Homo sapiens: one gene and its partner. The protein of the gene in region 2 interacts with the protein of the main gene of each other region in a pairwise test. Each region holds a gene or a part of one and is shown on either strand. Other genes may lie near its edges. The genes, in order: PWWP3A and GSTO2.

The links.
Region 1: the proteins of GSTO2 (region 2) and PWWP3A interact in a two-hybrid assay, tested with the Homo sapiens proteins (one large-scale study listed by BioGRID).

Annotation. Positions count from the first base shown.
Region 1 is NC_000019.10:1,371,844-1,375,645, reverse strand, and holds part of PWWP3A (PWWP domain-containing DNA repair factor 3A), read right to left. Parts: intron 2,575-3,802; coding exon 2,486-2,574; intron 1,699-2,485; coding exon of another isoform or gene 1,597-1,698; intron 1-1,596. UniProt on the Homo sapiens protein: Involved in the DNA damage response pathway by contributing to the maintenance of chromatin architecture.
Region 2 is NC_000010.11:104,282,475-104,286,291, reverse strand, and holds part of GSTO2 (glutathione S-transferase omega-2), read right to left. Parts: intron 358-3,817; coding exon of another isoform or gene 325-357; exon of another isoform or gene 302-324; intron 1-301. UniProt on the Homo sapiens protein: Exhibits glutathione-dependent thiol transferase activity. Has high dehydroascorbate reductase activity and may contribute to the recycling of ascorbic acid. Participates in the biotransformation of inorganic arsenic and reduces monomethylarsonic acid (MMA).

The DNA of each region.
Region 1 (3,802 bases), on a different chromosome or scaffold from region 2:
ATATTATATAATATATAAAATTGTTATATAATTGTATATATTATAATATATAAAATTATACATTTTATATATAATATATTTTATATATAATATATATTTTATATATAAAATATATAAATTATATGATTTTATATATTATATATAAAATTTATATATTTTATATAATATATAAATTTTATATAATATACATTATATATAAATATATATGGCTATATATATTTTATATATATAATATATATTATATATATATGAGAGGGCAGTTGTTTGATGGGGACAGAGCTGTAGTTTGGAAAGATGAAGTTCGGAGATGAGCAGCAGTACCGGCTGCATAGCACTGTGAAAGTGCTCACCGCCATCGAACCATACACTTAAGAAGGTTAGGATGGTAACTTTTACAGGATGTGTAATATTTTTTTTTTTTTTTGAAACGGAGTCTCGCTCTGTCACCAGGCTGGAATGCAGTAGCACAATCTCAGCTCACTGCAACCTCCACCTCCCGGGTTCAAGCGATTCCCCTGCCTCAGCCTGCTGAGTAGCTGGGACTGACTATAGGCGCGTGCCACCATGCTTGGTTTTTTTTTTTTTTTAAAGTAGAGATGGGGTTTCACCATGGTGGCCAGGATGGTCTCGAACTCCTGACCTCGTGATCCACCTGCCTCGGCCTCCCAAAGTGCTGGGATTATGGGCGTGAGCAACCGCACCAGGCCTTAACAATGTTTTAAAATAATATTTATTTTTAGAGACAGGGTGTTGCTCTGTCACCCAGACTAGGGTGCAGTGGCATAATGATGGCTCACTACAGCCTCAAACTCCTGGGCTCAGAGGATCCTCCCACCTTAGCCTCTCAAAGTGCTGGGATTACAGGCATGAGCCACTGTGACTGACTAAAAATAATTTTTTACGAAAGAGTATGAGATGCCAAATTGTCCTTACTAAGTGACCTCCCTGTAAAGGAAAATTATAACAATTGCTTAGCTAGCAACCCCTCTCAGCAATAGGGCTGCCCTGGATCAAAAGAGATCAACAACGGCTGCTGGCTCTGATGTGCGCCCCAGCAGACCTGGAAATAGGGGAGAGCACACCGGCCGCAGCACCAGAGAAAGGCAGACCTGAGGAGGACAGCCTTGGGAAGAGTGCAGAGAGGCTCATGGTGCAACTCTAAAAGAACAAGAGGGCCTGGGAAACGCCGTGCGGCGGGGAGACTGGGTCCCAGGACGCCCAGTGTGTGACCCAAGGCTCCACTGAGGCCAAAGATCAAGTGCGATGCTGCTCACTGGCTTGTTATTTTGAGCATGTCCCCGGCGTGATGAAATCACGGCCTGTGTGCTCAGCCCAAGTAACTTCTCCATCAGCACCAGCACCATTCTCACAGGTCACGGGAGGCTTTCATGGCAACTGGAAGCTGTGATGAACTCCTAACGGGTTTTGATGTCGGCAACCCAGACTCAAAAAAAAAAATCAGGATGAAAGATTTCCACAGATGGGCGTGGAGCGGTGAAGAGGCTTCTGAGACGGAGGGAGAGGACAAACCAGCAGGCTGGGTCCAGGTGTCCTGGCTCCGACCTTACCCCCTCCCCGGACCTCACTTATTCTTACGGCAAGCATGACGGGGGAACCATGAAGATCCAGCAGGAAAACACCCAGTTTCTGTATCCAAAGGCCTTTCCTGTTTTGGTAAGCCAGCTGGGCCAACACTCCCTAAACAAGGCCAAATTCCACCTTTGTGCAGCTCTGCGGGGGTGGCCTGCCAATGCCACCGAGGCCCCACACCTCCTCCCTGGCCTCTCCAGGGGCCCCTCCTGCCCTGCCCAGGGAGGACATGGGGCTGGTGAGGGAGTTCAGTGTCTTCACCAGGAGTCTCCTGTGACTGTGGGCCCGGGAGACGTCGGTGGCTGCGCAAGCCACCCTGGCCGGAGACCCTGTCCTTGACTCTAGTTGAGTCTTCAGCCTGTCACTGCCCCGTGGGCCCCGCCTGGCTCCCAGCAAGGCCTGGCCGCATGCCCAGAGACAGGATTAGGCGCTCTGGGGGCCAAACATCCAAGGGCAGCTAAGCACACGGATGTGAGAGAAACATCTTGATCACAGCATTCTTCTGGCTGCTGGAAAGCACCGGGCCGTGCTGCTGCTTAATCTTGCTGTATTTCTCACACAGCCATGGGGCTGTGGAAAGAGGGGAGGAAAGTGCAAAAAGCAAACATCAGCCCCTGCAAAAAGAGATTAAGAACAGACACGGCCCAGGCACGTGCCCGTGGCCCCGTGCTGCCCACAGCGACCAGCTGGGAGACCCGGGCACAGCCTTCCTGGGGGGCAGGAGTGACCCACAGGGTGAGTTCAGCGTATGTGATCAGCTCACCACCCAGCACCTGGGCCACCTCATGAGGGAGAGGGGCTGCGGCAGCCTGGAGTCAAACTGCCTGTGGGTGTGGAAATAGAAACTGCAAGGCAGAGACGCAAGTGGCTGGAGATAGCGCCGGGAGCGGCCTACCGGTAGCTCAGCGAAGGCCCCTTGATGTACTTCTCCTCAGCCGTCTTGTAGTCCACCTCGTCCACCGCAGAGATCGCACAGATGATGGCCTGTGAGAGGGCACGGGGCTCAATAGCAGCAGGCACTGCCCAACTGGCCCCAAGTGGCCTGCGGTTAAGAAGGCCGCAGGGAGCCTGGGTCACCAGGTTCCAGCCTCCAGACATGGTCTAGCTCATGGTTCAGAAGGTGCAAACCTAGTCCATGAATCCCTGCTTGTAATGATGTTTCTTAATTAAATCAGTACTATCTTTCGGACTAGACACAATAGCTCAGATCACTAAAAGCAGAGAAGAAAAGGCAAGACCCAAACCCACAAGAGCATTTCTCAAAAATTTTAAGTTTTTTTTTTGGTGGCGGTTTTTTCTGGTACAGAGTCTCGCCCTGTCGCCCAGGCTGGAGCGCAATGGCATAATCTCAGCTCACTGCAACCTCTGCCTCCCGGGTTCAGGTGATTCTCCTGCCTCAGCCTCCCGAGTAGCTGGGATTATAGGTACGCGCCACCACGCCCAGCTAATTTTTGTATTTTTAGTAGAAACGGGGTTTCACCATGTTGGCCAGGCTGGTCTCAAGCTCCTGGCCTCATGATCCACCTGCCTCGGCCTCCCAAAGTGCTGGAATTACCGATGCGAGCCACCACACCCGGCCTTAAGTTTATTGTTATAAAAAAAAAAGAGTATCCTGAATACACAATACATACCTGACATTAAGAAATCATCCCTATTTTTTACTTTTGTGATTATGGTAAACACATTTTTAACAGAGTCCATTCGGTTCAGAGCAGAGTCTCTCCCACTCGGCCCTGTGGACGTCGGGGCCAGACTGTTCTCTGAGGTGGGGCTGTCCTAGGCGCTGCAGGGTGCTGAGCAGCGTCCCTGCCCCAACCCACTCCATGCCAGAAGCACCCTTAGCTGTGACAAGCACAGATGTCCCCAGACACTGCCAGTGTCCCCCAGGGGGCAGAATCACCCTCCTTTTAGAGACACACACTGAAGTATTTATGGGCTTAAAAAAAAACTGTGGCCGGGAGTGGTGGCTCACGCCTGTAATCCCAGCACTTTGGGAGGCTGAGGGGGGTGGATCACGAGGTCAGGAGATCAAGATCATCCTGGCCAACATGGTGAAACCCCGTCTCTACTAAAAATACAAAAAATTAGCCGGGCGTCGTGGCGGGCGCCTGTAGTCCCAGCTACTTGGAAGGCTACAAGAGAATGGCGTGAACCTGGGAGGCAGAGCTTGCAGTGAGCCGAGATTGCGCCACTGCACTCCAACCTGGGTGAC
Region 2 (3,817 bases):
GTGGCTGCGTACAGCCACAGGGATTGAGAAGAAATGGAAAATGACAGCTTACAAGTGAGCAGTTTTTCTGGGGGATGATAAAAAAAACGCTCTGAAATTAAATACTGGTGATAGTTGCACAACTCACTTAATATACTAAAAGCCAGTGAATTGTACACTGGAAAAGGGTGAATTTTGTGGCATATGAATTATATCTCAATAACTTATTAAAAATAGCTAGTAATAATGAATTTAGTTTATAGACATGTTAACTTAGATGATAAAAAATTTAGCTTGTAGTCTACTATATATAAAAGGATACAGAAAATTGTTTTCAGTGACGAATTAACCAGGTATAAACTTTCTTTTCTTCCTATCCTGGTGATATCAAAGGAGAAACAATTAAACAATATATAAATAATTTCATCACTGGAAATTAATAAAAATTAAGAAAGAGCAAAAGCAAAACTAAACCAAGACAATATAATCTAACTTGAATAAATGTCTTTTTTGATGAGAAGAAAGAACAGTTTAAAAATTAAGATTACCAGGTGCAGTGGCTCATGCCTGTAATCATAGCACTTTGGGAGGCTGAAGTGGGAGAATCACTTGAGCCTAGGAGTTCAAGACCAGCCTGAGCAACATAGTGAGACCTCGTCTCCACAAAAAATTAAAACAAATAAAAACAAAAACAAAACAGTTGGGCATGGTGGCCTGAACCTGTGGTCCCAGCTACTCAGGAGGTTGAGGTGAGAGAATCACTTGAGCCCAGGAGGCTGAGGCTGCAGTGAGCCGTGATTGTGTCACTGCACTCCAATGTGGGTGACAGAGTGCGACCCTGACTCAAAAAAATAATTATAATAATAATTAAGATAACGGAGGCAGGCTCGGTGGCTTCAGCCTGTAATCCCAGCTACTCGGGAGGCTGAGGTGGAAGTACTGCTTGAGCCCAGGAGCTCAAGACGACAGTGAGCCATGACTGTGCCACTGCACTCCAACCTGGGCAATAGAGAGAGACCCCAATCTCTAAAAGAGGAAAAGAAAATAAAATAATTAAAAAATTAAGATTATGGGCAAAATTTAGAATCAATAAAGTATTTAACTACAGATGCTCCTGGGTGATGCACACATAATTTATGCAAATTCCACCTCATGCAAACTGCTACACATAAGGCACATGATCAAGTTTGGCAATGCGGGAAACTCTGCGTGGAAATGCAAAGTGAAGCACCCCAAGGCAGGTGGTTGAATGACAAGAAGCAAAACCATAAAGTGCCCTGTGGCCACGGGCAGACGAAGGCTTCAGTTGCTGGGCCATGTCTCATCCCTCAGGGCTATTTCAGCATTATTTATGTTATCCCCTCCCCGCTCTCTTTTATGGAGCTCTGATGATGACGAAGAAAGGACCAAGCAATAGTCAGAGTGCAGAACCAATTCAGAAGCCACGAACACTTTCTAGATTTAAAGCAAAACTCCAAAGCCTCAAGGAAATCTGACCAAATCCACCTTTCACTGCACTTGGACTTGATTTGACTACTTCCATAATGAAAATATTTTTGGAAGGCACAGATAAAAAGTGACACCAAGAGGTCCTGCCACATTCAAATCCACAAAGATCAAATGAAGCCTGGCTCAAGTCCCATTCTGAAATGGGAAAGTCAATACCTGAAAAAGAATAAAACTAAAAAATGTGTGCTGCTTAGAGTAATGATTCAGTAAGGGCTAGAAAATCTGCTTGAAGACATAAAGTGCAGCAAGACAAGACAAGTGTCATAGTTTTAAAACTCATGCCAATGTTCAGAACAGGAAAGCCAGTGAGCAGGCTGCTAGTTTGATAATAAAAGTGGCAGTAATATATCTCAAAGAATTGTAAAAGATATTAGAGAAAAATGTGGTTATATAACAAGCACAATAAATCTTTGATTTTGATGGAACTTAATTTTTTTTTTCTTGGAGACAAAGTCTCACTCTGTCACCCAGGCTGGAGTACAGTGGCATGATCATAGCTCACTGCAGCCTTGACCTCCTGGACTCAAGTGATCCTCCCACCTCAGCCTCCCAAGTAGCAGGGACCACGGGTATGCATCACCACATCCAACTAATTTTTGTATTTTTTGTAGAGATAAGGTTTTGCCATGTTGTACAGTCTTGTCTCGGACTCCTGGATTAAAATGATCTGCCCGCCTCGGCCTCCCAAAGTGCTGGGATTGCAGGCATGAGCCACTGAACCCACCTGAAACTAGATTTAAAAAACTAACAAGCAAACAAAAAAACAAGCCAAAAAAAAAAAAAAACTTAAAAAGTTAGACAAGGCAGTTATTTCAAAAGAAGAAAGTGTCAGAGTTTAAGGCCACAAAAGGTTAACTGAGCCTTCTGTTTCAGGATAACATAGCAGAAGATTATGCATGAAATCTTGGCTTGCTTATCACTCAGAAAGACAATGAGTATTTAATATATTTTTAGCTCACAAAAAATCCTGATTGTGCAAAACCATGTGAAAGAGTTACATAAATCAGGGGATCCTCTCCATTAGAATTATTCTGATAAATTTCAATTTCACTAGAATCTCCTGGAATAAATATTTTGGCATTTAAAGGAACAGATCGCATAATTCAAGTACATTGGTCATGTTTTCAGATTTCAATATTTCCTACATTGTAGTTATAATTCTTTGTTTATTTGTTTTTGAGACAGAGTCTTGCTGTGTCACCCAGGCTGGAGTACAGTGGCACGATCATAGCTCATTGCAAGCTCAAACTCCTGGGTTCAAAAGATGCTCCCGCCTCAGCCTCCAGAGAAGGTGGGACTACAGACCCGCACTGCCATGACCAGTTCATGTTTTAATTTTTAGTAGAAACATAGTCTCACTGTGTTGCCCAGGCTGGTCTTGAACTCCTGGCCTCAGGTGATCCTCCCTCCTTGGCCTCCCAAAGTGCCTGGATTACAAGTGTGAGCCACCACGCCCAGCCATAGCTACAATTCTTGCTAACATTCTATGGGACAAAACCACATTCAAACCTGTTAGGACAATGTGGAGTACTCAGTGGTCCTTAAATAGCATCAGTGAAAGCTACCTACACCGAGGCTGGTTAGTGAAAGCTACCTATATAGAGGCTGGTTAACAACAGTGTTCCTGGGGCTCAGTTATTGAAGATAAAGTGAAATTTCTTATTCAGTGACATGCTGGAGCTGCCCACATCTTTTGCCAGCTCTTGAGTTTAGAAATAGCACATTGGTAGCTCAAAATTAACCTTGACGGAAGTGTTTACACCACCCAAATCAGCAAATGCTATAAATCCGTGCTTTTTCTTTTTCTTTCTCTTTTAAGAGAAAATTGATTCTTAAACATTTATCACCACCCCACTAATGACATTCCTAAACTCTCTGGTGAAAGCTCCTAGCCCATAAAACCATTCCAAAGGTCCAGTAGAGACCATACATTGTTCTTCTAAGCTCTGCCCGCATATGAATATCCCATCAACACCACAAATTTGACAAAATGTGTCTTCCCTCAAACTCTTAGTGAAAAGCATCACATTTACCGGCCACAAACTTGGAAACCATCCTCCATAACTCCTACTCCTTCCTCAGATTTCATCTCATCTTAGTTCCTCAAAATCTCTCTAATTAAACCTCCCTCTCCAACCCTCGTTAGTGGGGTCCTCTTTGTCCCTTCCCAGTCCCTCCTCTTGGACACTCTAATCCATCCTCTACATTCTTGCTGGGCTGAACTTCTTCTTCTTCTTTTTTTTTTTTTTTGAGATAGGGTTTCACTGTGTTGTCCAGGCTGGAGTGCAGTGGTGCAATTATAGCTCACTGCAGCTTCAACCTCCTAGGC